Linked DNA regions of Homo sapiens. The protein of the gene in region 1 interacts with the protein of each later gene in a biochemical or structural test. Each region holds a gene or a part of one and is shown in the gene's direction. Other genes may lie near its edges. The genes, in order: KDR, GREM1, CCDC88A and VEGFD.

The links.
Region 2: the proteins of KDR (region 1) and GREM1 interact in a biophysical measurement, tested with the Homo sapiens proteins (one study listed by IntAct).
Region 3: the proteins of KDR (region 1) and CCDC88A form a complex in vitro, tested with the Homo sapiens proteins (one study listed by BioGRID).
Region 4: the proteins of KDR (region 1) and VEGFD form a complex in vitro, tested with the Homo sapiens proteins (one study listed by BioGRID).

What each region holds. Positions count from the first base shown.
Region 1 is NC_000004.12:55,101,419-55,108,783, reverse strand, and holds part of KDR (vascular endothelial growth factor receptor 2 precursor), read left to right. Parts: intron 1-890; coding exon 891-1,047; intron 1,048-1,973; coding exon 1,974-2,097; intron 2,098-2,843; coding exon 2,844-2,952; intron 2,953-3,799; coding exon 3,800-4,141; intron 4,142-6,275; coding exon 6,276-6,422; intron 6,423-6,755; coding exon 6,756-6,887; intron 6,888-7,365. UniProt on the Homo sapiens protein: Tyrosine-protein kinase that acts as a cell-surface receptor for VEGFA, VEGFC and VEGFD. Plays an essential role in the regulation of angiogenesis, vascular development, vascular permeability, and embryonic hematopoiesis.
Region 2 is NC_000015.10:32,712,915-32,721,266, forward strand, and holds the start of GREM1 (gremlin-1 isoform 1 precursor), read left to right. Parts: upstream 1-5,089; 5' UTR 5,090-5,247; exon of another isoform or gene 5,248-5,450; intron 5,451-5,569; exon of another isoform or gene 5,570-5,951; intron 5,952-8,352. UniProt on the Homo sapiens protein: Cytokine that may play an important role during carcinogenesis and metanephric kidney organogenesis, as a BMP antagonist required for early limb outgrowth and patterning in maintaining the FGF4-SHH feedback loop.
Region 3 is NC_000002.12:55,416,690-55,423,975, reverse strand, and holds the start of CCDC88A (girdin), read left to right. Parts: upstream 1-4,119; 5' UTR 4,120-4,896; coding exon 4,897-4,959; intron 4,960-5,059; coding exon 5,060-5,160; intron 5,161-7,286. UniProt on the Homo sapiens protein: Bifunctional modulator of guanine nucleotide-binding proteins (G proteins). Acts as a non-receptor guanine nucleotide exchange factor which binds to and activates guanine nucleotide-binding protein G(i) alpha subunits.
Region 4 is NC_000023.11:15,381,049-15,388,334, reverse strand, and holds the start of VEGFD (vascular endothelial growth factor D preproprotein), read left to right. Parts: upstream 1-3,921; 5' UTR 3,922-4,388; coding exon 4,389-4,478; intron 4,479-7,286. Other genes in the region: PIR (pirin), read left to right, coding at 3,219-3,331. UniProt on the Homo sapiens protein: Growth factor active in angiogenesis, lymphangiogenesis and endothelial cell growth, stimulating their proliferation and migration and also has effects on the permeability of blood vessels.

The sequences.
Region 1 (7,365 bases):
AAAAAGGGAGAGAAGAAAGAAGGAAGTGAGAGAAGGGAGAAGGAAGAAAGGGGAAGAGGGAAAGGGAGTGGAGAGGGAGGGAGGGAGGAAGAGGGAGAGAGAATGAAAAACTCAGATGATGGTGGCAGGAATGCATTCTCTAAAGATTTACACCTTCCTTTAACATGAGGTGGTTTACGTGTTTGGGTTCAGAAGTCAGAGTGTCTAGGTTTGTTCCAGGTTTTGCCGTTCGTTAACTGAGTGACCTTGGGCGAGTCATTTTTTTCTGTTTCATTTTTTTCTCACGTATAAAGCTGTGGACAGTAATAGTGGTTGTGAGGATTAAGTGAATGAATTCATGCAAAGCACTTCAAACAATGCTTGGCACATAATAAATGTATTTACTGTGCTATTTCAGCTGTTTTCTGTAGCCTTTCCCTGATCTCCTAAACTTGAGAGGACAGAGAGAACTATCTCTGTAATACAGATGAGAGGCACAGGATTTCAACACTTCCATAAAGTCATTCAGCTTGTTAGTTTATTATTATTATTAGCTTATTGTCATTTTTATTTTATTTCGTTACTTTATTCCTTTTTTTTTTTTTTGGTAGAGATGGGGTCTCACCATGTGGCCCAGGCTGGTCTTGATCTCCTGGGCTTAAGCGATCCACCTACCTTGGCGTCCCAAAATACTGAGATTACAGGCATAAGCCCCCATGCCTGGCTAGTTGTTATTTTTATGAGTATCACTAGAACTCAGGTCTCTTGTTTCCACATCTAGGTGTTCTTCGAAAAAGAAAGTGGAAGCAAAATCATATGCTTAAAGAAAGTCAGCTTTAGTTGCTAAAATCCTCTATTTCCCATTCTTCAAAGCTGACTGACAATTCAAAAGTTGTTTTTCCCATCTTCAGTCCCACCCCAGATTGGTGAGAAATCTCTAATCTCTCCTGTGGATTCCTACCAGTACGGCACCACTCAAACGCTGACATGTACGGTCTATGCCATTCCTCCCCCGCATCACATCCACTGGTATTGGCAGTTGGAGGAAGAGTGCGCCAACGAGCCCAGGTGAGTAAGGCCACATGCTCTTTGCTTTCCTGCCATCTTGCATTTCTTACAGCTGAGCTATGATATGACTCCATCCTAAATGGAGAAGCCTAAACCAAAAAAAGTTTTCTCTCAAGAGGTAGCCTGAATCTCCATCCATCTTTCTCTGTGTCTTACATTTTAGGGGATGTCTTTGCTTGGAGTATCCTCCTTTGGGGTTAGCTAAGCTCAGCCTTGTTAGGTTAGCCGTGAGGTACACTTCTCCAAACACAGGCTATTTGCTCAGTTTGCTAATTGCCAGTCTTTGGTTTTTCTCCCGATACCAATCGGCTGGTGAATACCACATCCCTCCTTCTTGTGTGTGTGAAGATCCATCTCTCAGAGGAAATGCTGATAGATGAGAGGCAGTGATAGACCCAGCCCCAGTCCTCAGGGTCTCAGGCCCAGCTTATCATGCTCTGACACAAGTCCAGACATCCTTAGGGAAAAACACAACAACAGCAGCCAACCCACCACCACCCTAAGCAGTCCACTTCCTGTTGTTGTTTTTGAAATGGCCACTATGAGCTTCTTCCTCAGCTGCTGATCATTTCCTTCACAGAGACCATGGTCCCAGAGAAATTACTTTAAGGAGCCCAGTGGCTTCTAAGTTTCCTTGCCTTCCTTTGAACTAAATTAACTTGAATTGTCTTGTCGATCCAATTTATGAATGAAGGTTTATTCCCAGAATAGCTGCTTCCCTCCTGTATCCTGAATGAATCTACCTAGAACCTTTTCCTTCATTGTCAATGCCTATTTTTAATTGGCGCCAAGTCTTGTACCATGGTAGGCTGCGTTGGAAGTTATTTCTAAGAACAGAATAACCAAAGTCTGAATCTTTTCCTTACTCTTGACTCTAATTAAAGAAAAATTAAATCATAATATGCGCTGTTATCTCTTTCTTATAGCCAAGCTGTCTCAGTGACAAACCCATACCCTTGTGAAGAATGGAGAAGTGTGGAGGACTTCCAGGGAGGAAATAAAATTGAAGTTAATAAAAATCAATTTGCTCTAATTGAAGGAAAAAACAAAGTGAGTTTGAAGTTTTAAAATTTGAAAATCTCTCTCTCTTTAATGGAAGGATGGTACAATAATATGTGAGGCATATTGGAGATTAATAATCAAATAGTCTGGATGATTAAATAGAGCGTATTAAGTCACTTTGAAAATACCATTGACTTTTAGCAGTACCATTAACTTATTAATAGCTTATCAGAGAAAAATAAAAACATCTATGACATTAAATCTATGCATCTGTGTAGGGTGATTCTGATTTTATAAACATGAGAATGAAAAAATGTGTATCATATCATATTAAAACACATCATTAGTTTCATGGCTTCCAAAGCCCTTTTTATATAATGTGTGAGCTCCACAGCAGCATAATTATACAAATTGAGTAAATATCCCAAACCTAAAAACCCCAAATCCAAAATGCTCCAGATTCTGAACCTTTTTGAGTGCCGACATGGTGCTCAAAGGAAACGCTCGTTGGAGCATTTTGGATTTTCAGATTAGGGATGCTCAACTGGTAAGTATACAATGCAAATATTCCAAAATCCAAAAAAAAAAATCCAAAATCCAAACCACTTTTGGTCCCAAGCGTTTTGAGTAAGGGATACTCAACCTGCAATTGCATAAATTTGAGCGTGTCCAACCGCTGCAGAAGTGGGAATGGCATAGGCAGGTTGGAGTGATTGTGGAGACTGCTGGACTGAGTGCTTGTGCACAAACAGCCGCGTTGTTTATGGCCTGGGATTTGTTTTTTCCCCGCACAGACTGTAAGTACCCTTGTTATCCAAGCGGCAAATGTGTCAGCTTTGTACAAATGTGAAGCGGTCAACAAAGTCGGGAGAGGAGAGAGGGTGATCTCCTTCCACGTGACCAGTAAGTACTCTTCTCTGGAGGTTTGGGTTGGATCACTCACACAGTGGGTACTAAGCTATGTAATTCCCTGTTGTTTTTGCCATTCATGTGAGTGGCATGGCATTTAGGAAAGAGGACTTGGATTGATCATTGATGCTTTCATTCATAAATTACAACTTCTCAGGTATCTCCTGGGCTTATGTGAAGTCAGTGCGTCTAACTACACTGGAGAGAGAATGGTTTCACAGATGCTTTAAACCACAAGCTCTGTGTGGTATTTACATCTCAGTCTTCAGAGTCTGGCACAGTGCCTGGCTTATTGAGCTTCAGTACATATTGGTGGGCTTGCTGTGGAACAGTTGATGAGGGTGGGCTTTATGGAGGCAATCAGAAGGACATAGGAGCAGTGCCCTCCCAATGCTGCCGATTTTGCCTGTGCATCTTAGTTTTATGGATAAGCTTTAGCTGATTGTGCTGAATGGAATATTATAGCCAGGGCTAATTCATTGGCATAAATGTAGCTTTCATATCATTGAGTGTTAGTGTTAATGAAGACCTAATTTTAAAATTCTGTTAGAATTAGAGATTTTGCTTTGGATTTTTAATATATTAAACATTGCGTAGAGCTCATAGTGGAGATGTGGTAAATATCTGAGGAATTCGTTTACATTTTCAAGTAATGTGTTTGGCCAAATAAGATATTTTGGGACCTGAATTGTCTAGTTTGTTTGTCAAGTTGTAGTACATCACCTGGAACGGATAGAGCTTCATTTCTTTTGGTACTTTGTAGTAGTCTGAAAGCAGCAAGATGATAGTGAGCTGTACCAAGTTAAATCACCATTCAATAACTATGGCCTCTTCATTTTAGGGGGTCCTGAAATTACTTTGCAACCTGACATGCAGCCCACTGAGCAGGAGAGCGTGTCTTTGTGGTGCACTGCAGACAGATCTACGTTTGAGAACCTCACATGGTACAAGCTTGGCCCACAGCCTCTGCCAATCCATGTGGGAGAGTTGCCCACACCTGTTTGCAAGAACTTGGATACTCTTTGGAAATTGAATGCCACCATGTTCTCTAATAGCACAAATGACATTTTGATCATGGAGCTTAAGAATGCATCCTTGCAGGACCAAGGAGACTATGTCTGCCTTGCTCAAGACAGGAAGACCAAGAAAAGACATTGCGTGGTCAGGCAGCTCACAGTCCTAGGTAGGGAGACAATTCTGGATCATTGTGCAGAGGCAGTTGGAATGCCTTAAATGTAGTGCAATTCAGGTGCTATGCAAAGATTACTGTCCTCTAGGAGATTATGTTGTAAACTGGTGCACACTTCTTCACCGAAAGTCCTTGAGGAAGAAAGAAGCTAATAATAATGAAATGATATATCGAAAGGAGAAAATAACAAAACCTGATGATGGAGTAATTCACTAGTATATGCAAGGGATATTAGCTTGAACCAGGGAAACTTCTGCCTTATCTTGGGCATCCATTTATTTAAATAGACAAATATTTGTGGAATGCCTGCTATGAGCTAGGAGAGTGTCAGAAATTCACAGTGGTAAACATGAAGGAAAGGAGGAGAACATAGGCAACCACTGGGAAGTCACAGCACAGTGAGGTCTCTGTGTCCATGAGAACAGGAATTGTTCTCTGTTTTGCTCCCTGCTATAGCTCTAGTCATAGAGCATAGCAGCATATACTAACTGCTCAATAAGGCACCTGCTGCATGAAGAGTGGGATGATGGGCTGCGTTTAAGACCTAGAAGACTCCATGGGAAGGAAGCTACATTCACTGTCTGTACCTCTGGGTCATCCCACATGATCCAGCGTAGCCCAAGGTCAATGGGACGATCACTTCAGTGAGCAGATAGCTCTGTAAATTCCTCCATAGAGGCACTGTCTACCCCTTGTCTAACCTCATGCCTTGTGCAAAAGCTGGGCAGCCATGGCTTTGTCTGTGGGAAAATCAGGCAAATTTGGGGAGCGTCTCTTTGTGCCACTTCTCTCCATTTTCTCCTCTTGTGGTGTCCCTTTCCAATTCCTAGGATATATGTGCCCTCTGTTTTTTTTTTACTGTTAGGAAGGAAATTGCCCAAGTAAATTCATCTATACCACAGTTTTAGAGGGTAACGTCTTCATCAGAGGCCTTGGCGTATTTGAAGAGGCACCTTCTGACAGACACTAGCATAAAGTTCGCTAGTTTTAAGACTCAGGTGTCATAATAAGAGATACTTTGGGGTCAAGTCATCCCCAGCATCCTTCAAGTCACACCACATAGATCACATGGATTTTCTGTTGGCTTGTCTGGCTTCAAGGTTATGGCAGAATTGAGAAAGAGATGTGAAGTAGGCTCCTGGCCTAGCTGTGCCCAGAAAATATGTGCTCGCAGTTAGCTGCTTTGCTTCCCTAAGGACTCCTAACTTGTTTTCCTAAAACCTATTCTTAGAAATAGGCTAGAATCCAGTACATTTGCTTAGACTTCAATGTAGTACGCTGTTGAGGTAATCTCATTTTGCTAAGTGTTGACGTGGATTTTTTCAGCATGATTCCTTTTGATGTTCAGTTGGTTGGGACAAGATATTTCCACAGCACTTTGATGATCTGAAGAAAGAATAAATCTAAAGTGTTCTTGTACACTTAAACAAATACTCATGGGCTTCATTTTCTTTAAATCCAAGACTTCCCTTAGGGTATTGTTGTTTTGTTTGTGTTTTAGTGGAAATAGCACTGAACTGGTCTTTTAGCCTCACCAGATTCTGTAAACAGTTCAACTGTTTACTTAGTTGCAGGGACATGGACAAGTGGTTTAATGTCGCTGAACATCATTTATTTCATCTGTGAGATAACGCTAACAGTCCTATTCTGCTCATTACATAAGATCACTAGTGAGGAACACAAATTGTGTAAACAAGTTTTATAAGAATTGCCAAATAAATGTAAGGCATTATTGGTTGAATGATACTAAAATTTGGCACTTCCAAGAGAAATTTGAAGGGATTCTAGGGTATTATTGACTAGAATCTTCATGGGAGGGAAGTTTTCACCTGGGGAGGCTGTGTCTAATTAGAGGAAAAATCCATAAAGGTGACCCTGAACCTTTCTTTTGTGATGGGATTACCAGCTAGTATCACTAATATGAATGTTAAAAGCCATTAATCTGTTTGCAGTGTCCTGACTGACTTGTTTCATTTAACTTTACCCAGTGACCAGTGTATTTTCCCAGAAGTTAATATATCAACAAGTTCCTTTTTACTAAATTTAAACTGTTTAAAAGTTTGCTGATACCAGAACCATTTCAAAAGTTATAATTCCATGTTCTGTGATTTTCTTTTTGTGTGTCTAGAGCGTGTGGCACCCACGATCACAGGAAACCTGGAGAATCAGACGACAAGTATTGGGGAAAGCATCGAAGTCTCATGCACGGCATCTGGGAATCCCCCTCCACAGATCATGTGGTTTAAAGATAATGAGACCCTTGTAGAAGACTCAGGTAAATAGAATTTGGCTATCACTCTTGGGTTGCAGAACTTTCCCAGGGATGTTATCTAAAAAGCCATATTATTTCTTGATGTAATGTAGAAAAAAAGCAGTATTGGTGTCCATGACCTGGCTCATTTCACAGACTTAGAATTGGAGTATGGGGCCCTGTTGAATTTTCATGAAAGCCATATAGGAGATTAGTCAGCAGTAGATCCCATGTGACTCTACAGAGTTAGATAATAGAACAAGATGAAGGGCAGCATTTATATTTTCTAAATTTCCCTGAAAAACTTCACAGACTACATCATCATAAATGAGAATGATCGTTTTCTTCCTCTGTTAGGCATTGTATTGAAGGATGGGAACCGGAACCTCACTATCCGCAGAGTGAGGAAGGAGGACGAAGGCCTCTACACCTGCCAGGCATGCAGTGTTCTTGGCTGTGCAAAAGTGGAGGCATTTTTCATAATAGAAGGTCAGTGGGATAAAAAAAAATGTGGTACATATACACCATGGAATGCTATGCAGCCGTAAAAAGGAATCTGATCATGTCCTTTGCAGCTGCATGGATGGAGCTGGAAGCCATTATCCTCAGCAAACTAACACAGGAACAGAAAACCAAACGCCACACATTCTCACTTATAAGTGGGAGCTGAACAATGTGAACACATAGACACAGGGAAGGGAACAACACACACTGGGGCCTACTGTGGGTTGGGGAGAAGGAGAGCATCAGGAAAAATAGCTAATGCATGCTGGGCTTAATACCTAGGAGATGGATTAATAGGTGCAGCAAATCACCATGGCACATGTTTACCTGTGTAACAAACCTGAGCATTCTGCACATGTATCCCGGAACTTAAAAGAAAAAAAGAAGGTCAGTGGGAAGTCATAGATACATCCTGTGGTTTTTGAAGATTAGTTTGTATCTTATAGACACACATTCACTTTGA
Region 2 (8,352 bases), on another chromosome or scaffold:
TTCCTCCCTTCCTTCCTTCTCCCTGTGCAAGTACTCATTTCATAGCTTTGTCAAGCATTTGCCGTGTGCCACCCCTGCGTTACCCAGAGTGAATATAAAGATACATAAGACCCGGTCGGGCGCGGTGGCTCACGCCTGTAATCCCAGGACTTTGGGAGGCCGAGGTGGGTGGATCACGAGGTCAGGAGATCAAGACCATCCTGGCTAACACGGTGAAACCCCGTGTCTACTAAAAACACAAAAAATTGGCCGGGCGTGGTGGCGGGCGCCTGTAGTCCCAGCTACTCGGGAGGTTGAGGCAGGAGAATGGCGTGAACCCGGGAGGCGGAGCTTGCAGTGAGCCGAGATCGCGCCACTGCAGTCCAGCCTCGGCGACAGAGCAAGACTCCGCCTCAAAAAAAAAAAAAAAAAAAAAAAAAAAAGATACATAAGACCCAGCAGACGCTGATATTAGACTTACTGTTTTATTGTGTTAGCTCCCAGTTGAACTCTAGTATCTATGCAGACACTGATGTTTATTAGGTGCCTGGCACTTTCACAGAGCTTGTTTTACTTAATTCCAGCATCTACCCAGAAGTGGGTGTTATCACCATTCCTATAATACAGATGGTTGAATTTCAGCCCAGAGGCTTTAAATACCTAATTGAGACATTCAGCTTCTAAGGGGAAGTATCAGGAATTTACTCTGACTTTCCTGACTCCGAGTTCCGTGCTTTTTCCCACTGTGCCAGAACTATTGACTGTGAAGGATTATGTTCACAGTTTGAAGCCTTCACCTTTTGATACTGCACTGCACGTGGAGTATATGCAATAAATATGTGCATGAAATAGGGCAAGAATTGTATTACAATGGTCCTGAATAACTCATTCCATATACCTGTATTTGGCAACATTGTCCAGAATTTTCACATGCACGTGCATTTTCCATACACAGGAAACTGGTTAGGCATACACCTCAGACAGGTCAGCAGACATACACACTTACATAAGGGCTTGTTTGCATTCTGAAAGCATGCCTACTCAGATTGGAGCTTGTTACAAAGAACACATGGGAAGCAAAAATGTTCAGTTTACAAATGATGCTCAAAATCACTCTTGAAATCATAATAGAAACATCACATTTGTTTTAAATTTGAGGGTTTAAAACATTATCAACATGTAGAGAGAGTTATCTAGCAAACACATCCATGTACCCATCACCCAGAAATTCAAATTGTCCACATTTTGTCATATTTCTTTCAAGATTTTTTTTAAGACATAAGATTTTTAAATGGTTTGTAATGTTGAAATTTCTTTTGTCGTCCATGCCTGATCCACCTCCTCCCCTCCTCATTCTGGTGAACATCATTAAAGGTATGGATTCCAAGTCACTATTTATCCATGCACATGACCATATGTTTCACAAGCAATTTATGCTATTTTTATATGTTTACTATAAAATACACATAATGGTATCATACTACTTATATCATTCTGCAGCTTCCTTTTTTTTTTAAAAAAAAGCATCTCTATGTTTTGAGCTCTATGTTAAAATATAAAAATCTAATCAATTTCTTTTATTAGCTATGTAGCATTTTGCCATATGAATAAAATAATTTCTTATGCCTTCTCCTATATTTGTTGATGGACATTAAGATTGTTACAAACAATACCTTGATAAACATGCTTATACAAGTTTCTAGTCCTCATACACACGTTCAAATTTTTCTAAGGTGTTTACCTAGAAGTGTAATGTCTGGGTGGCATACTAAGTGCATGTTTAATATTAATGCAAATTGACAAATTACTTTCTGAAATGATGGTACTAATTTACCCTCTCACTAGCAATGCATTTGCTTGCTTGCTTCTCTCTACCTTTTCCATTGCTGGATATTGTCAGACTTTTAGATCTTTGGTAACTTTGTAGATAAGCAACAGTATCTTCTCATTTCAGTTTATATTTCTCTGATTTACTGGTGTAATGTTGCATCTTTTTATATTTACTGGCTGTCCAGGTTTCTTTTTTGTGAATTACCTGCCCATGTGCTTTGGCCATGTGCAATTTTTTTTTCCTATTGGGTTATTTGTGGGGATTTTTTTCTTACTAACTTATAAGAAAAATTCATTCTGAATATGATCCATTTAACTGGTATTTGACTCTTGTAAATATGTTTTTACTTAATCATTATCAAGTTTATAGGTTAATACTTTTTTTCTTTAGAAAGGGCATACAAGGTCAGTTCCAACTGTGTAAAGGGCTTTATTCTTTTTTAATCCTATGCAAGACAGCATACGTAGTCTCTGCAATTGGATGAACAGCTGTAAATAGCTTTTGCAGATCTAAGTAAAAACTCTTCTCTAAAGGTCTTCAAAGTTATTCTCCAAACCTGGGGAGTAGCCCTCTTTTAGCTTCTTGGGGTTACAGAGAGGCTAGCACATTCCAAACACAGGTGGGCAAAAAAAGAGGAAATGGACTTTACTTTTACGAACCAGTGGCTGAGCAGAATCTACTCTTCTCACAACCTCAAAGTAGTTTGAAAGTACTTTCATTAAATAAAATTAATCATTTAGTGATCGTGGTTTAGGCATCATGGTTTAGGCATGACTACATCGAGTCATTCTACTTCTTCTCCCCTTACTAAAAGCAGGTTTTAGTTATGTAACCATGTTTAGAGCGGTCTAGGGAGTTTTTATCCTTATGCCTTCCTCCTGATTGGACAATGGTTTGCAAGAACTTGTTAGGAGCTGTGGAAACACAAATATTGGGCAAAAAACTTGTGTTTCTATATAAATATTTACAAACATACTAGACTATAAATTCTTTGAGGTGAGGGCCTGTGTTTATCCTATCCACGATGGTTATACCCTCAGCATTTGGTTCAGCTGACAATCTTAGTGGGAATGTGCTCAACATTCTCAATCCACAACTATTTATTGAATCTGAGTGCTGTGTTAGACAATCTATATTCTATGTGCTTCATGTAATCAAAGTGACCTAGACAAAATCCCTGCCCTTATGAACCTTACATTCTAGTGGCAGGAAATACTATAATGCCAGGGAGAAGGGAGAGAGAAATGAGAATGAAGAAAAATGATGCAGTGATGCATAGCCCTCTCTATCTCTTTGGGATACAGAGAGGGGGCGTGTGTTGTGGGGAGGAGGTGGGGGCTCTATTATAAAAAATATGGCCTGAGAAACTGCATGAGGAAGAGTCATCATGATTTGATACATGGAGATAGAGAAAACCACAGTGTCAGGGCTCCAAAAAAAAAAAATCACTTCCATTTTGGGAGGTAATTTCAGCTTCTTTGTATTTGATTTGGGGCAGTATATAAGTCTTGGGAAAAAAAGAAGTGACTAAAGCTTTTATTTTAGATGAGGAGGACTTAATGAATTTGTAAAATATGCTCCCTTTTGTGGGGAGAAGTACAGCAGTTTGCACGTTGGGAGAACAGCTGGCTCCAATACAGCTTGGTGGTGGGCTTCGACTGAACTGGTCATCGCCTAAGTATTTTGTGTATTTCTGATTACCTATCTCTCCAGGAGCCCACGTGAGCAAGACAGGTCTTCAAGCTGGTTCAATGCTCCCATTCTGTAGGCAACTACAAACTGTGGCTCACTGCATGACTTAACAACAACTGATTGAGAATTGTAAAGTGCAGCCTCGAGTTCATGTGTAGAAACTGCCATCTGCACAAACAAAACATTGAGAGGACTAAGATTTTAAGGATACTAATGCAGACGTCCTTCTTGCTTCATTTATTTAAAAATATCTATTTCACGTTCCTAACAGCATCTAGTAGATGTTTCTTGCTTCTTCCCCCTAACGCCGGACTAAAGAGAAAAAAAAAATAGGCTGTTTTCTGGTCTGGTTTTGTTTTCCTAGTCAAGTACTTAAATTACGGGTGTTTCGTAAGTATCTTTTGATGGATTTCATTGTTTTGTTTATTTCGCGTTAGACAATACAGACACCTTCATATTTCCTTCTGTAGCAAATCTTTTTCAAAGTCTTCATTTGACGTGGCTGATGGAGCTGGTCTGCAGATCTTGCAGACGTGTTAATTTTTGCACGGACTTTAGCTTCAACACACAAAACTTACGGCCTCTTTGAGGAACCAATTTTTCAGGCTAAGAGAACAAATGAAAGTGTTCGCTCATCTTTCGAAAACTATTTATGTACTTGGTATCCGGAATGTGACATTGGTTTTACACGTCGGTAGGTTTTTGTCCTAAATTTCTGGGAAGTTACTTCCTCATCTAACGTTTTATTTTCCTGACTTATTCGTCTTTGATATGCTACAGAAAACCCCTCTCGCCCAGTGGCTGTTTTCTCTCTGTCTCTTAAGATAATTTAGGAACAGAAGCCTTGACTTTTGACGGTCATTTAGTTTTATTCTCCTCCCGTGACTCCCCTCTGTACACTCACAGGGGAGGCCGCCGGCATCTGGGCTGAAAGAACCCTTGGCGGGCGAGGAGAGCAGGGTGTCATGTTGGCGACAGGCTCCTGCTGGCGGCCAGCGAGCCCGCCAGGTTAACGGGGGCGCCGGGGTCAGCGCCCTCGAAGTTGGGGGCCTCGGGCGGGGCCGCCGGGGAGCCACGACGGCCGCTCGACCAGAGCATCCCGCAGTCCCGTTCCCTCCAGAGGGGAAGAATGGCCGAATCTGGCACGATCCCACGGAGATCTCGCTCTTCCCAGCGCAGTCTCCGCTACTGAGCGCGGGACCAACGCAGGCGATGCCGGGCGGCCGACAGGGAAAGCCCAGACCTGGGGCAGAGAAGGAATGAGGGGCCGCCAGCCGGGGGGATTTCCTCCCGCTCTTCCCTCTCCAACGGGAGCGGAAAATGTGATTTGCTGTGCATTCCAGGCGCGGTTCCCTGGGGTGACCTCTCCCAGCCGGCCCGGGCGGGGGGAGCAGACAAAGAGGCGAGGCGGGCGGAGAGGGGACCCCGCGGGGAAGCAGGAGGGGTGCGGGGGGCGGGGGCAGTACCGGGAAAGGGGGCGGATAGCGGGTCTGGCGGCGGCGGCGGCGCCTGGCCAATGGAGAGGCGCGGCCCCGGGCGCCGCGCTCTGCCGCCGGCATTTAAACGGGAGACGGCGCGATGCCTGGCACTCGGTGCGCCTTCCGCGGACCGGGCGACCCAGTGCACGGCCGCCGCGTCACTCTCGGTCCCGCTGACCCCGCGCCGAGCCCCGGCGGCTCTGGCCGCGGCCGCACTCAGCGCCACGCGTCGAAAGCGCAGGCCCCGAGGACCCGCCGCACTGACAGGTGAGCGCGGACGCACCCGGCAGGGATGTGAGTGGGCGGAGGGAAGAGGGCCGCAAACCAACCCAGGACCCGCTCAGTTCCACGCGCGGCAGCCCTCCGTGCGCGCAGGCTCGGGTGCGTTGTTCGCGGGGGTGAATTGTGAAGAACCATCGCGGGGTCCTTCCTGCTGAGGCCGCGGACACCGTGACCTCGCTGCTCTGGGTCTGCAGGGAAACGTAGGAAAAAAAGTTGTCAGGAGCGGGCAGGATGACCCCCACATCCCGTTTCCACCTCCCGGAGGCCCCCGAACACGCTCCTGGTGCTGGTGGCAGCAGCGCCTGGCAGACGCGCCCGCTTAGCGAGGGCGCGAAGTCCAGGCCGCCAGAGCGCAGGAGCATCCGGACCTGCTAGTCGGCCGCTGACTGCGCGGCGAGTTGCCTTGAGAGGGTCCCATGTGCTTGGGGCGCCGCGCTGGGTCTGGGGGCGTCTTGGGGCGCCCATTGGAGTCCGCGGGTTGGAGCATCCGGAGAATCCATGATGTGTGCATTTGCCGATCCCCGAGGTGAGATGGAGACTGGCAAGGGCAGAGCCGCTGTGTTCAGCCACAGCGGAAAACCGAACGGTGGGTAATCCGACAGCTGCGGTGCGGGGCGCGGCCCTGGCCGCGGGGTCCAGCGAACCCGCAGTGCTCACAAGGCAGACACCACACGCGCTCGCGGACCGGCCACGCACTCGCGGGCGCTCGCTTCTCTACTCCAGCCTCTTCCCCGCCCCGCGCACGCCCGGGCTGAATGGTAGACGTTCTGGCGCCGGGCAGCGGCCACCGGCTGGTTCCCACTTCCGCGCGCACCCCTTAAACTGTGTTCTAGAGGCCCCAGCCTCGCCTTGCAGCGCCTCACTAGCTCCTGAGGACTAGGGACTGGCGGCTGAGGCGGGTTGGCGGCTGCAACGAGCTGGGCGTCTTTCGTTCTCTCTCGCTGCCTGGCTGGCTCCGCTGGCCCCTCCACAGCTTGCGGAGCAAGGCCATAGCAGGGGAGTGGGAGGTATATTGGGGCTGTCACCTCCTTGCTGGCCGGAGTTATTTGTAGACTACAGACTCCGGAAGAACAGACGCGCCACCGCTCTCGCTTGGCATTGCCTTCGGATCGCAGCTCCTCCTTGGGGGTGCCCCAGCTTGGCGTTTATTTGCCTGCGCCAGGCTCTGGCGACGGTCACCGGGCCAGGCGGGGAGGGACGGACGGCAGGTGACCAGCCTCTGCTGTGAAGAAATTCCTGCGCGCCCGGAGCTGTCCCTAATGCATTCCCGGGTCGAATCCGTCTACTGCCTTCCCCTCCTCGACCGACTCCGAATCTCGGCTCTTATAGACAGAAATACAGCCTCAGCGTTAGGGGTTAAAATCCCCCTCTTAAACGGTCCGAGGGCAGAGAGGTGACCACCGATAGGTAATTGGATCTCCTGCTGGAAAGAGCAAATCTGAGCGGTGTGCGCGTCTGTTTATGTTCCCCTTCGAGATGGTGCCAGGACACGAACTGATTAAAACAATCTATTGTGTTAAGTGGGTCACTAGGGTTTTAAGCTGTCCCAGGGACCCCAGAGTAGTGGCTTCCTTCTGGCTGTACACACAAGTTAAATAAATAGCGTAGAAGAGGTTAAGATAACCCCATTCTAGGGTGAGGAGTCCTCTTTCATCCCTAGGGCTTCCCCCTCCCCTTTTCTCTTTTTTTGGAAGGAGGGGGAGCATGAGAGTCTTGAGGGGGGGATGTACTTTTCAAAGCAAGGAGGGAAAGATCTTAAGAAAACTATATATTCTCACTGCCCCCCAAGCCAAGTCTATAACAGTAGGTGATTTGATTACTATCTCTGGATAAATGGCACTGTCAAATTGTTAATATTAACTATTTCAGGGATTTTTAGCAGGGTAGTGGCAGTATGTGTGCGTGTGTGTGTGTGTGTCTGTGTGTGTGTGTTTAACCTCCAGGTCATTGTAGGAATTAGAGTCTTTTGTAAACTTTGTAATTTCACAGGTTTCCTATTTTCTTAAAAGTTCATTTTTAGTGAAATGTTTTGGTAACCCACGCTCTGTAGGAAATCCAGGTTGGCTAATGCGGTCTTTATGTGAGTAGTTACACAGGGAAGGATAAAAACCTTTTATGTCCTACATCTCTGAATGAGGGCTGCCTACCCTGTCTTTGAAACTAAGCCGAAGATGCCTTCAGTCTGAATGGTCAAGTATTAAAAGTGATAAAATGCAAAGAAATTTCATGCCGCAGACACCTCCCCCAAGAACTGCTTGTTGACAGCAAAGCTGTGGAACATGTTCCACAACAGAGAGTAAAGGACAGCCAGGAAATATAAACCTTTTATGTAAAGGAAAGGCAGGTGGGGGACAGTGGTTAGGGGAGGTGACTGCAGCCTCTAACCAAAAGGCAACCATCAGGCAAGTGCTACCAGCCCGTGTCTTCGATCTGCAAGGAATTTTCTTTAGTTTTAACATATGCTCTTAGAAATTCAAAGTACAACAGGAATTCCTGGGACAAGAGAAATCTTTTTATTCACATGTGAACATGAAGATACAAAATAGATAATTATTTTATTTATAGCACTCTTCAAATTGTATTGCATTAGAAAACATATCCATTGACCCACTGTTAAGGACAGCACTGGGTGTCAATAGGACAGTGGTTAAGGACCTGTGTTTGGGGCTAGATAGAATTGGGTTTAAACTGCTGGCTGGGCTAGGCACAGTGGCTCACACCGGTAATCCCAGCACTTTGGGAGGCCAAGGAGGACGGATCACCTGAGGTCGGGAGTTCGACACCAGCCTGACCAACATGGAAAAATCCCGTCTCTACTAAAAACACAAAATTAGCCAGGCATGGTGGTGCATGCCTGCAATCCCAGCTACTTGGGAGGCTGAGGCAGGAGAATTGCTTGAAACCGGGAGGCGGAGGTTGTGGTGAGCCCAGATAGCGCCATTGCATTCCAGCCTGGGCAACACGAGTGAAAACTCCGTCAAAAAAACAAAACAAAACAAACAAACAAAAAAATGCTGGCTTTCCCACTTATGAGCTGTGTGACCTTGGACAAATTTCCAACTTTTCTGAGTGTAGATTCCCTGATTGGTA
Region 3 (7,286 bases), on another chromosome or scaffold:
TTGAGAAGAGCAATTGATACTGGCCTGAAAGGAGGACCCCTTCTCTCTTCCCTGTCTTATCTTTCCAACTTTCCTCTCCTCTCCTCAGTTGAGGTACAGGACAGAGCAACGAGTCCACTGGTCTCAGCAGAAGTCCAGTAGAGAATGAAATCAGTGTGCTCATTCCCTACTGGGGAAACTGATGCTCAAAAAAGTTAAGCAACCTGCCTAATTTCTCTTTCTCTCCCTGTATTATATTTCCTCTTAAAACTATCTTGGGTAATTAAAATATAAGCCTTCTGTGTTCCTAGGTGATTTAAAAATCTTAATTATTAGATCAAGGCACCCTTTTAAAAAGTCTATTAGAGACTAGATTTCTTGATGACTTAAAAAAAATCTTCATGAGGCAATGGTGCCATTCTTTTTTACAAAGGTTTATTGAGACATAATTCACATTCCATACAATTCAGCCATTTAAGGTACACAACTCAATGGCTTTTAGTGTATTCACAGAGTTGTGCAACCATCACCATGATCGTTTTAGAATATTTTCATTTTCTCAAAAAGAAATTTCACATCCCTAAATCATCACTCCTATTTTCCCCCAACTTTCCCCCAGCCCTAGGCTAATCTACTTTCTGTCTCTATAGATATGTCTTTTCTGGACATTTCACATAAATGGAATAATACAATATGTTGTTCTTTATGACTTTCACTTAGCATAATGCTATCATCCATGTTGTAGCATGTATTAGTACTTCATTATTTTTTATTGCCAGATAGTATCCTATTATATGGATATACTGCATTTTATTTATTCATTCATCAGTCCATGGACATGTGGGTTGTTTCCACTTATTGTCTATTATAAACAATGGTGCCATTCTGCTGCTGCATTTGTGGTATTTTTCTTGTACTAGCTTACGAATGTGATTACCTTTGCAAATCCGTACTTAAAAATATTTGTCACCAAGGAAACTGGTTCTGGATGAGTCTATCACTTCCTATAGTGTAGATCAAGATAGACATGGGTAGAAGTTCATATGGGTGCTTTTGGTACATGGGTTGTGTTATTCATATGCAACCTGAAGGAGAAAGCCTCAATTGTGATACACGGGAGACAGTCTTTCTCTAGAGATTTCTAAATGGGACCATGGTCCTTTCTAACCATTTAGTTTCAGATTAGAAGACAGCTGAGCAAATAACTTACATCCTAACCAGGTGGGTATGATTTTTCCAAACTCCTTTCATGCTGGATTTAACCTTCCAAGAAAGGATGCATTCAGGACACATAAATGACTACAAAGTACAAAACAAAAGTATTTTGAAGAAATCTTAAGAAATTTCTTCCTAAGTGAAAGGTGGATAGGAAACTTTTGGATTTAATCTTACAGGATGTTGCAATTCAAAGACCATTAAACTGGGTATAATGTACAATCCCTCTTTAGCCAGACAGAGAAGATTACTGGTTGTACTCTTGAGATATTATAAAGCATTTTTAAGGCTGCTGTTAAACTAGGGAATTGTGAATTGGTAGGTTTTCAAATAAGTTCCTCCAGACCTCAGTCTGGTCTAAAGTTTCCTGTTTTTACAATTAACTCCTCATGTTTCTTTGTTGAGTGTGTGTGTGTGTGTGTGTGTGTGTGTGTGTGTGTGTGTGTGCGCGCAAAACCTAAAGATAGACCAGAAAGCATCTGGGGCCATCTGGCTCTAGAGAAGAATCCAGATTTCTGTGAGGGCTGGGTACTAAATTGCATAAACAATACTATCTTAATGTATGACTCCTGTGCTAACCCTTCAGTCACCACTTCAAAATGCCCCTAACCTGCTGTATTTGGTGTTAATACTTTTTGGTTTTTCGCCTATGAATGAAGCAGATTGATTTGTCCTAGGATAAACCCAGTATAGGCATAATTACTTCCATATTGTTTTGTCAAGCGTCTGGGGGATTACAAAGAAAAGTGGGTATGTCAAGCACTGGGCTGCTCCTGAAAGCAATGCTGTCTCCTTGGTGCCCACTCTCCTTCTGTCTGTATTTCATTTGCCAAATAAAGAACTGCTATTAAGAAAGAGTTATCAGGCCAAGCGCGGTGGCTCTCACCTGTAATTCCAGCCCTTAGGGAGGCCGAGGCGGTGGATCACTTGAGGTCAGGAGTTCGAGACCAGCCTGGCCAACGTGGTGAAACCCCGTCCCTACTAAAAATAGAAAAATTAGCCAGTGGGTGGTGGCGGGTGCCTGTAATCCCAGTTACTTGGGAGGCTGAGGCAGGATAATCGCTTGGACCCTGGAGGTAGAGGTTGCAGTGAGCTGAGATCGTGCCACTGCACTCCAGCCTGGGTAATAGAGACTCTGTCTCAGAAAACAAAACAAACAAAAAAAGAAGGAGTCACCAAGCCAGGCGTGGTGGCTCACACGTCTCGTCTCAACTGCTAGGGAGGCTGAGGTGAGAGGGTCACTTGAGGCCAGGAGTTTGAGGCCAGGCTGGGCAACACAGTGAGACTCCCATCTCTAAAAGGCTTTTTAAAAAGTCATCAAGAGCAGATGGAAAAGATTGCTAGCAACAAGGATGTCTGAAGGCTTGTGTACTGGCTAGGGAAATGCAAGGTTCTACTTGTACATCACCTAGCAAAGTGCCACATGAATGCATCCTAATTTTAATTAAGATGATTTTCAAAGGGCATTTAGTTCCCTCCTCAAAGCAAGATCCTTTCTCCTGTAACTGAAGCAGAGAGGTTATATTTCAAGTTTTTCATAAAGGTTCTTTATTTTGAAGGAATAATGTTAAAAACAACATTAATGACATTTATAGAACACTTAACTATAAGCTGCCATTTCATTTAACCCTATTATTAGCCCTGCTTTACACGTGACGGAATCGAAGCACAAAGAGACTCAATAACGTGCGTAGGCTCACACAGCTGGTGCATATTGGAACCAGGCAGGAAGACTTCAGAGTCCAGGTTCTCAACTACCCAATTAAGAAATTCTGCTCTTTCTTAACTGTGTTATGACAAAAACATTTTTACTGCTAATTTAAAATATATACTCCGTGTAAATATTTATGTAATGTAAACATAGCACACATTATAAAACTATAATATTATCTTTTATCAAAAAAAGATTGCGTTCTATATGCCCATTTTACCCCGGGAAAAAGGTCTTTATTTTCCTTTGAAATGAGGAGTAGCATTTGATTTTGCCAGGGAACTTAAAATTATTTCAAGGTCCCAGTCGTACGTGGCATGGAGATTTATGACAAATATGTAATCTGTTTATTTGTCACCCAACTTGGATGACTTCTAAATGTTTCTTCTTTGTAGCTCTTGATTTTGCTTGGGTTTCCCCCGACCCATGCCCAAATAGTAAAAAACAAAACAAAACCAAAAAACAATGTCTGAGTCATGTTTGCTCCAGTCAGGGAATACCAACGTGCTGACAGACAGCTCTGGTTTTTAAAAAATCTTACTGTATGTCACTTGCAACTTTGAAGAACATTCATGCGTTAGTGGACTGCATTTGGAAGAAAACAAAAAGGAGAAAAAAACCCCCACCAAGTTGTGGCTCAAGTCCCTCTGCCATTTGCTGCAGTGAGTTTTCCTATTCCATTTTGCTGGGGAGAAGGCATGCTTTACAGAACACATCAAACTGTCCGAAAAAGGCTGTCTGCATCCCTCATGTTTATAAGAGAAGGATTTCTTTCCCCTTCCTTCACGTATCAAAGAAGTCACTCGGGGAGGAAATAAACCATAATTAGGCATGAGCGAGCGAGCAGACAGACCCCTTGCTCTGCCTTCCCTGTCCCCGCCCACCAGGCAACCGTCCTGGGCGCAACCGAGGAGCGGGTTGTCTCCGCAGCAGCTGCAGCGAGCGCGCGCCCACGCCCGAGCCCGCGCCCGCCGCCAGGATCTGGGCGGCGGCGAGGCTAGCCCGGGGGCGCGCTCGCTCGGGAGCGCGCTCATGCAGCGGTTTTCTTCTCCCACAATCCAGAGGCAGCTGCACGGGAGGGGCGGGGAGTCGGCGGAAGGATATCGGCGCGGAGGGAGCAGCGCGCTCCCTTTGACGGCGGCCCCCGGCATTGGCGGGCGGCGCTGGCGGGCGGCGAGGGGTGGGGTGTGATGCGGCACTGCGGTTCTGAGGCCGTTACTCCGGCTTCTCCATAGAGGGCGGAGAAGGCTGGAGCGCGGCGGTGATTTTGTGCCAGGGATTCCCAGAGACGCGCTGAAAGGCTGGCAGGGCTTAGGAAGCTGGGGGGTTAGGGACACACATTCAAGCCCCCACCCCCGGGAGGGGAAGGGGGCTGGAGGCGAGGCTTGAGGGCGGCGGAGGAATGGTGTCTGCTCGGGGGGAAGGGGCGAGCCCTGCCTGTTGGTACTGAGGGGCTGCGGGCAGTGGAGGCTCCGCGGGTCGAAAGCGGCTCCATGCCCATCGGTGGGTGGAACGTGTAGAGGTCGGAACGCCGAGGTCGAGTCTGGTGGCGCCTCGGTATCCTTAACGTGGTCTCTGTTTAACGTATTTCATTTAGCCCCCGTTGGGATTGATTCATTGGGAGCAGTTTCGCTGGTCTGGATCCTCCAGGAGCTGGACAACCTTGACGGGCTTTTTGTCTTGGGTTCCAGCCCCCTTTCCCTTCCTCCTCCTCCAGATGCCTTTTCTCTGCCCCTCCTCGCCCGGTACAGACATTTCCAGCGCAGGCTGCTGCTCGTGGTGTCCGTCGTCGAAGCCACTTCTTGGGATTTCGGCTCGTTTCACTCTGGGGTGTTTTTTGAGGAGGGAGAGTGCCCCCCTCCTCCACGATGGGATTTTTCTCCCTTGCCGAAATGGACTTTCATTGATTTCTACTTACTTCCACGTTTAGTGACCAATTCCCTAGGCGTATTTTTGTGGTAGTTCCTTTTTTCAAATACATACTCTGTAAAATGGAGAACGAAATTTTTACTCCCCTTCTGGAGCAGTTCATGACCAGCCCTTTGGTCACTTGGGTAAGTGGGGTGTCCTTTATTGTATATTTTGCTGAGTTATTTGTGGCTGCAGAGATGGAGGTGGGCGTTCATGTCGTGGTGATCCTTCTGTTTGTTCTAGGTTAAAACGTTTGGACCTCTGGCCGCAGGAAATGGGACCAACCTTGATGAATATGTGGCTTTGGTGGATGGGGTATTCTTGAACCAGGTCATGCTCCAAATGTAAGTTCTTCCTTCTTTCCTAGGTAACGTTTTCTTTGAGAAATAGCATATGGTGAACTTTGAGACACGATGTTTTAAGCCCCTAATTTGGTTCATTGGCCAGAAATATTCAGGTGGTTTAAGAATTGGATCTTGAAAGGAATGCTAATGTTATGGGCTCAGCCCATTATCACAACCTAGATATTTTACCTGTTAAAATTGTGAAACTTTAGTTTTTCATTCTGTCAACCATGTATTGTCACTTGTCTTCAGTACTGAAATCCAAGCCACATTGTGTATTCTTTGATAATTTGGTAAAATAAGAGAGAAAATGAGAATCTGGTTTCCTAAGAGAGGAAAAAAGACTTTACTGTGAAGTTATGTGCATTTGATGCAGAAATGTTTCTTATTAACCTTTATATCTAGAAATAAATGGCTCAAAATTTGAAACTCGTTAAGTAATAGCAGATTTCAGAAGAGAAAATTTCAAACAGTTCTGATTGGTGAGGACTCTTGCTGTAGTAAATAATTTAAATGCCTGTAATAACTAAAGCCTGATGAGATGATTTATTGTGTGAATTATTAGGTTGCTTAATATTTTAGGGATCATTTTAAGGTATTCTTACAGGTTTTGAAATGCAAATAACAAGTCTTGATAACAATTAGATAACGACTTATTGGGCAAATCTTTGTCTTTTGTGTTTATAATATTGGGTTTGTACTAAGTAGGAAAGTATGCTTTTGAGATGGGAATTGAATAGTGAAAGTATATTGGTAGCTGGATCAGTAAAATTAAAACTCAGCTTTTATCTAATTACAGCTATTGTAGCATACGTGTATTCTAAGTACGCTAATGTAGTTTATCAAACTGAATTTTTCAGTTGTGCTCAAAGTAATGTATACTTAGTCTTATTTCTCTTTAATAGAATCTGATGAGAAGAGGTAGTTTGGAACTTTTATATGTATGGGAAATTGGTGTGTTATCAATAAATAGTTGTTACTAGAGAATAAGTCTACCATTCTGCTCTGATAACCTTATCAATTTTGTATTTTATTGGTTTAGATTTTTATGTTTAAGAGGGTAGAAGTCACATCTATAAAAAATTGCTCTCGTGTTAACTTCTCTGTGTGCTCAAAGAGATTTGTGGGCTGTTTTTCATGTACATGTTGATCCTACAGGGAAGTATTATACTATTATACATTTTCAACCAGTGTTTTGTTTTCATAGGCACCCAAAGAAATATATATGTTATCTAAATATGTATATATTTATTTTTTTCCTTAAGAAAGGAAAAAAGAGCGTAGACATCAATTATTTCCAGGGTTAGTAAATGTATTTTTGACAGCTGTGTAATGGAATTATTTTTTATCCTCAAAATATCTGACTATTTCCTAAGCAAAATGGTAGGATAATAAACTGACTTCTCTTTTGGGGAACCTACATGACAGAAAGGGTAGCCATTACAGTAGATACTCAGAATTTGTTCCCCTGTGTCTCTTTATTGTGCTTATTTTTAGACGGAAGATTTTGAATTTGTGTGCTAAAAATGTGTGTTCACAAAAATAGGGAAATATATTACTTTAGTTTTCCACTTTAATGGTTTTTATTTGAATGATTCTTTTTCCAGAAAAATTTAGATTTTTTTTTTGCATCCTAAATACTTAGCTGAGGTGCTAAAAACAAATACGTTAATTTCCACTTCAAATGCAGTTTTATGCTTAAAAAATATATGTATATTTTGAAAATGACGGTATTCCAAAATAGTGTTTGTCAGGTTGCTGTTTTTCATGAGGACTAGCTCCTTTCCAAACCACAAATCTGCTTCTGTATTTTCAGTTCCACCTCTCAGTTTCTTTAGATTTTTTTTCGGTGTCCTAATTCTGTTGTAAATGACCTATAAAATTAAAGGAAAAGAAAAGAAAAAAAAAGTATACTTTTGCTTTGTTTGAATAATTTGCTAAAATAAGATCAAATTTATCTTAATAAATTATTTAACTGATAGGGCAACAAAATATACATTGTTTTATAAGCTGTATTTTGCTAATTTTGAAGTCATTAGGATTTCTGTTAAGCACTTTACTTAGATTAATGTATGCTTTAATGTACTCTATTATAAAGTGTCAGTTGTAACTCTATACCTAGTAAA
Region 4 (7,286 bases), on another chromosome or scaffold:
CTTCTCTAATGGAAAGCGATTGTTAGCAGTGGAGCTGGGACTCGAACCCTAGTCTCCTGACCCCATGTCTTATGTTCGCTCCACTATACCAAAGTTCTACATAACAAGAGGTTAGACACACCATTTTATACAAGAGGGGGGCTTCAGAGGCTTAATTAGAGAAGTGATGAAAGCTATAATTTGAAAGAGAATTATAGGTAACTATCAAATAATTTTCTTGTTCACAACCCTTGTAGTTGATCAATTTAAAAACATGCTTTCTGGATTCAGTTTTCTCCTTGAAGATTTGAGGAGATAAGCTTCATCAGTTAGCTTTAGGGGACTCTAAGCTTCCAATGCTTCCCTGTATAACAGAGGTTATACTTGTTTCCTAAAGTGTGGTCCATGGACCAGCAGTATCAGCATCACTTGGGAGATAGTTAGAAATGCAGAATCTCAGGCCTCACTCCAGACCTCCTGAATCAGAATCTGCATTTTAATAAGATTCCCAGCTGATTCATGTGCACGTTATAAATTGAGAAACATGGCAGACTACCCCAGAAAGTGTCAAAATGGAAGCCTAGAAGCACACCATTCTTACAGAAAACAGTTGGGGGATGGGAGTACTGCTCCACAAGTCCCAACCATAGCAAAATTATGAGGCACAAGAATTTGGTCCTTGACTCAGTACCTGCTCCCATCTTCCAAGTTGCATTTCCCTTTCCCCTGCGTGTCCTTTAAAAAGTTGTCTTCCCCAGGGTACCCTCTTGGGTTTATTGTTTATTCTGCATATGTTAACTCTCTTTTTCTTTCCTACCTGATATAGTCCAAACCTCCATTTCCAGATGAAATTTCTCTCATGAGCTCCAGATCCATAGTTTCAACAATGTACCAAAAACCTCTGCTTGGGAAACCACTTTATTGTCTCTAGTACTTCTATGTTAAAATACTCAGAACTGGGCCGGGCGCGGTGGCTCATGCCTGTAATCCCAGCACTTTGGGAGGTCGAGGCTGGCAGATCACTTGAGGTCAGGAGTTTGAGACCAGCCTGGCCAACATGGTGAAACCCAATCTCTACTAAAAATACAAAAATTTAGCCGGGCATGGTGGCACGTGCCTGTAATCCCAGCTACTGGGGAGGCTGAGGTGTGAGAATTACTTGAACCCGGGAGGCGGAGGTTGCAGTGAGCCAAGATCGCACCACTCACCACTGCACTCCAGCCTGGGCGACAGAGCAAGACTCGGTCTCAAAAAAAAAAAAAAAAAAAAAAAAAAAAAAAAAGAAAAGAAAAGAAAAACAAAACAAAAAATATCCAGAACTGAACACCTTGCTCCATCCAAAGCCTCCCACGTCCTGTATCTCAAATACCCTTAACAATTCCACCATTGACTCAGCCTCCCAAATTAGACACCTGCTCTTCTACCTTGATGCCAAAGTCTTCTTTAAAAATTATAAATCATATTATATTACTCCCTACTTAACCTTACAGTGATTCATAATCACCTGCAAAAGTAGGTCCAAACTTCTTCCTGTAGATTGCATCCAAAGCCCAGAAGGGTCTGGTTTCTTCCTATATTTCAGATCGCCATTTTTTCCGCCTTTGATCCCTCCTTCCACCACTGTACCCCTATCCCCTCCAGTATTCCTCCAGCATACTAAGCCTGAACATGCCTTTCCTCCGTGTGTGACTGCTCAAACATCACTCCCTCTGTGAATCCTTTCCTGGATTTCTCCTCCTCCCCCTTTCTGTGTTGATTTTATAGTTTTTACACTTTTATCCTTCCATATTTCAAACAGTTTTGTAATGATTTCTTTTCATATCTGTGTGATAGATTTGAATCCTTGAGGAGAGGGAGTCTGCCATTTATTTGTCTTTCATCTTTATGTCTCTAGCTTCTAGCACAATGTCTGTCATTTAATGGGCATTCAGTACATAATAGATAGGTAATTGAATGAATGGATTTAGATGCCTGGGTGTTTTCTTTCTACTTGTATTCTATTCCCCACATCCTCTCCAAAGATTTCAGCATCATCAAGACATATTATCCTGTGTCTTCCTTCTGAAGATTTAAATTATAGTGATCACCAAATCCATGTTGATATGATAACAATGGTTAAGAAGTTTGAATATGTTATTTTCTCTAAGCAATACAGTTGTATATTAATCAGAATCTCCCAGAGAAAGCCCCTTAGAGCAGGCAGTTCCATAAAAGGAATGTCAGGAACTTCTGCAGGCTGGATGAGGACATACACTGAGTGAACAAGTCTGTCAACTGCTCTAAAGACACTGTCAATGCCATATAAAAGCTGGCCTTGTTCATCTAGCAGATCATGGGGGTGAGACAGTCCAGTGCCTCTCTGCCCCTACAATATATGAAGAAAGGGGAAGAAACACACATTGCCTCCTGGTAGATTAGGGGAGGACTTCTTGTACATTTTTAGCAAAATCCGAGTTCAGACCCAGCAATTAGACAAAAGGGTCAGCAAACTATGGTCGATGGGCTACATCTGCCCACTGCATGTTTTTGTAAATGAAGTTTTATTGGGACACAGCCATACCTATTCACTTTTGCATTATCTATGGCTGCTTTTGCACTTTGATGAAAGAGTTGAGTAGTTGAGACAGACACTGTTTGACCCACAAAATCTAAAATACATACTATCTAGCCCTTCCTAGCAAACATTTGCCAACCCCTAGAAAACTTTTAAAAAATGATGCTCTTCGACTTGAAATTTTTATAATCTTCTGTTTATTGTCAATAGGTGCTGCTGATTTTCAAAAAATGACTTAGAATCCTCAAATAAGTATACAGCCTTATATGCTGCTTAGACACCAAAGCTATGATAAGATTTGTCAGTTCTTTGTATCAGATGGGTTCAATTCTTGACATCAGCTAATGTTATAAAAATAACTACAAAATTGGTTGTAATAGAACCAAATCTAAGACTCTTTTTAATAAAAAAGATCACCATTGCTGGTGAGAAACCTATACTGAATGGGTGAGATGCCATTGCATTTATCTGAAGTTTCGTCTTTATAATCAATAATCATATACAATCCTAGTCAAGAAACTCATCTTACAGTCCTTGGGGATTGAACACTGTGAAAATAAACTTTTACTCTTCGGATGTGCTTGGATTTTGTTTTAAATTAAGAACTACAGAAATATATATCATTTCTAGTGGTAGAGGAAAATATTGCCACCCAGAACTTTCTGAATGTCTCTTTCTGCCCTAGGTCCATTTGTGATGAACACCAATGAAGAGATTTCTCAAGCTATTCTTGATTTCAGAAACGCAAAAAATGGGTTTGAAAGGGCCAAAACCTGGAAATCAAAGATTGGGAACTAGTGGAAAGCGGAAGAGCAGGTCTTGATGTGTCCTAGAATTTTGCCATTTCTGAGATTGAGCCATTGAAGGCATTCCATTTCTAAAGCTTATTTAGCCGGTGCTTCTAAAGAATTCCACACTAACGTGATAACATGGTTTTTGTAACAATAAATGTAGGATATTTCCTGGCACATGCAAATAAACCTAATCATTGTTTCTTTAAAAATCAGTGTTTTTCATTTGAGATACCTAAGTTACTAAGCTTCTGTTTAAAAAGTCGTTTTGTGTATGTTTGCCTTTTTTTGCATGTATGGATGGATGTTTTTATTATTTTTGTGCATGTGCAGGTTTTAAAAATCATATTTGATTGCTTTCTGTGTGTCATTGGCAGCAGATGCATGAGCATCTGAGGTCCCTTCTTAAGCAATCCCACTGAGATACAAAGGTCAAAGCTATGTGCTGGGGTTTCATGTTACAGGTTATCTGCTTTAAAATAACGGCAGCCCTGAACATTTGAGTCAGTTCTTAAAACTGCCCTGCTATTGGTAGGGACGCAACAGGATTACAGCCAAGACTTCTCTGCATTTTCTGCCAAAATCTGTGTCAGATTTAAGACACATGCTTCTGCAAGCTTCCATGAAGGTTGTGCAAAAAAGTTTCAATCCAGAGTTGGGTTCCAGCTTTCTGTAGCTGTAAGCATTGGTGGCCACACCACCTCCTTACAAAGCAACTAGAACCTGCGGCATACATTGGAGAGATTTTTTTAATTTTCTGGACATGAAGTAAATTTAGAGTGCTTTCTAATTTCAGGTAGAAGACATGTCCACCTTCTGATTATTTTTGGAGAACATTTTGATTTTTTTCATCTCTCTCTCCCCACCCCTAAGATTGTGCAAAAAAAGCGTACCTTGCCTAATTGAAATAATTTCATTGGATTTTGATCAGAACTGATTATTTGGTTTTCTGTGTGAAGTTTTGAGGTTTCAAACTTTCCTTCTGGAGAATGCCTTTTGAAACAATTTTCTCTAGCTGCCTGATGTCAACTGCTTAGTAATCAGTGGATATTGAAATATTCAAAATGTACAGAGAGTGGGTAGTGGTGAATGTTTTCATGATGTTGTACGTCCAGCTGGTGCAGGGCTCCAGTAATGAACATGGACCAGTGAAGGTAGGTGAGCTCAATTTTTAATGTGATGAAGTTCTTTTTATTGGCTCATACAGAGGACTTTCTTTGCCCTCACTATTTTTGAAACAATATAAAAATGCAGAACCATCCTAGTAGTGGACTGGACAGGATATATCCTGCATTTCTTGGTGACTGTTCTGTTTCTTAGTCTTATTAAACTTCTGGCCATGAGTATTTGAAAATGCTGGGGTGGGGGTTGGTTGTTTTTTGAAGTTATGGTAGAACATGAGCAGTCTGGAATCTTTTTGGATGGAGAAGTTTCTCCTCGGTTGCATATGCAGATGGCACAGTGGTTTTTTAATGAAACATTGATTTGTTTTTATGACTGATAACTTTGTGGGCCATTTATTTTCAGGTCTTTGTGAGCAGCAGAGGTTAGTTTATTCGTTTGGTAAATTGAAAATTGCAGTGCTTTCTATGAACATTTTCTATCTGCTTTTGCAAATTACCAATTGCTGCCATCCAGAAAAATGTTTTCTCAGAGAGTGTTTGGTTTTTTCGCTTCTTGAAAGGTGTAAAATTCAACACTAATCAAATCTTTGGTTCTGTGAGCAAGCATCAAATAGAGCTTAACGAACAGAGAGTAATGCAAAAAATTAACCAGAATGTTGCTGACTGCTGGAACAATACTTAGCCCAATTTTATGCATTTCATGGATTATATATATTTTAAGCTTCTATTTTGAAAATGATTCGGATGTAATTGTTTTGACTGAAGTGGTGCTAAATCATTATTGATTTAGGAACTTCTGGCCTTGAAAAGACAATTAAATGTGAGTTTGAGTTTTTGTAGCTGTTGTTTAGGACGTGCATTTTCAACAGGGGTGATATCGCCCCCAGCAGGGGAAAATTGGTTCGTGGAGGGATGAAAAAGTTTTACCCTTTTGATACATCACGCACAGACGTACATACAGTACATATGGTATGTAGTTTAAAATACGTTATACATTCAAATTGCATAGGGGGAAAGTGTCTTCAAAGGCTCCTGGCTGGTGTTGGTGGCCTGGCGAGGGTGGGGGCTGATATTTAAAAATGTTGAACACTGAGCTGGAGGTGAGTGGGAAGTCACCTTGTCTGGCAGCCAGCACTTTTCTAACTTCTCAAATTCCAAATTTACATGGGAGAAATCACAGTGTTTGGCTCCATTTTACTGCCACCAGCCTTGATATTGGATCTCAAGGCCAGATTGTAGGTAAATGGGAATCTGACTGTAAGCATAGGTAACAGGAGAAAACGGTCTGACTTGTTTGAAGCAAGTAAGACTTTTCCGACTGTCCAGCTTTTTCGTAAGTTCATGAAACAGAAATCCTTTAGATGTGCTGGGCTCCTCGAGTTTTAAAATATTTCCATTTTCCTTGTAAAACATCACTTTATCTGATGGTATAATAAAGGAGACTGAATTGTTGGACATAAGTCATATTCTTTAGGTTGCTCAGCTCTTTCAAAGAGCACAAGCACCAAGAATGTCTCAGGTGTCCTGGGCACTGTGAAGTTTTATTTATTTATTTATTTATTTATTTGAGACGGAGTCTCACTCTGTCACCCAGGCTGGAGTGTAGTGATGCAATCTCAGCTCGCTGCAACCTCTGCCTCCCGGGTTCAAGTGATTCCCCTGCCTCAGCCTCTCGAGTAGCTGGAATTATAGGCACGTGCCACCATGCCGGGCTAATTTTTTGTATTTTTAGTAGAGACAGGGTTTCACTGTGTTAGCCAGGATGGTCTCGATCTCCTGACCTGATGATCTGCCCGCCTTGGCCTCCCATAGTGCTGGGATTACAGGCGTGAGCCACCGCGCCCGGCTGGCACTGTGAAGTTTTAAATGCTTTGAATGTACTGTTAATATATAAATTTGTTGAATGGAGTAACGAAGGAAAGCAGCTGAATTTGCATGTGACAGAAAACAAGTTGTTACACGTGGAGGATGCAGCATTATATACTTACTAATACGATTAGCAATTTTTTTTCAGAATATATCAGAATTTCCTTTAAAAAGTGAAGCTACATATACTGAACTTATATCCACCCTACCCCTCGCTCAATTAAATTATTTCTGATATGAAGGAAAGGATTGCCTATAGCTAAACAGAAGTTTTGGCATAGATATGACTGAGTGGTAAGGGATAATGAGATATATAATATTGGTTATAGTTTTCTTTTTTCCCCAACTTTTAAGAAAAGAAAATCTAAGAGGAAATAATGTTTCTAAATGTTAAAGTTCTTCTTGTTAAAATTAAAATGTAGTGTGAAAACATATTCATGGTGGTAATGGTTTAGGGTGGTGGTATTTGAATTTTTTGTTTTTTTTTTTTTACTTTTTGAAATAAAATGTTTTATTTATTATAAGAAATTCATGGTCTTCCTCGGTACTTGGTCCATATGTATTTCTTTCTCCTCACCCTCCCCTCTTCTAACCACCTCTTTTCCAGAATGGATGGTGATGCCAATTTTGCTCCTAGGTTGTCCTCCAGCCACCCCCAGCCCAGTTTTCACTTTCTAGCTTTGAAGATTGTCCAGTTTTCCAGCTTAGACTAGCATTGCCTCTACGATAGTTCTAGGTATCTGTGAAGATTTTTTTTTTTCCTGTAGCAATCATGAAATAGCTACTAGTGCTCTGGACGATTGTGCTTAATGCCATTTGGGTGTAAGGCCTCCTAATTTCATTAGTCTTACCACTTGTGTTTGCAAGGATAGCTGTTTGGAGTCAGCAGTGCATGGAACATGTGAACTGAGACAAATCTGTTTGAAAATCTCAACTTAAGATTTCAAATCCACTGTGTATACTATTTAGCTG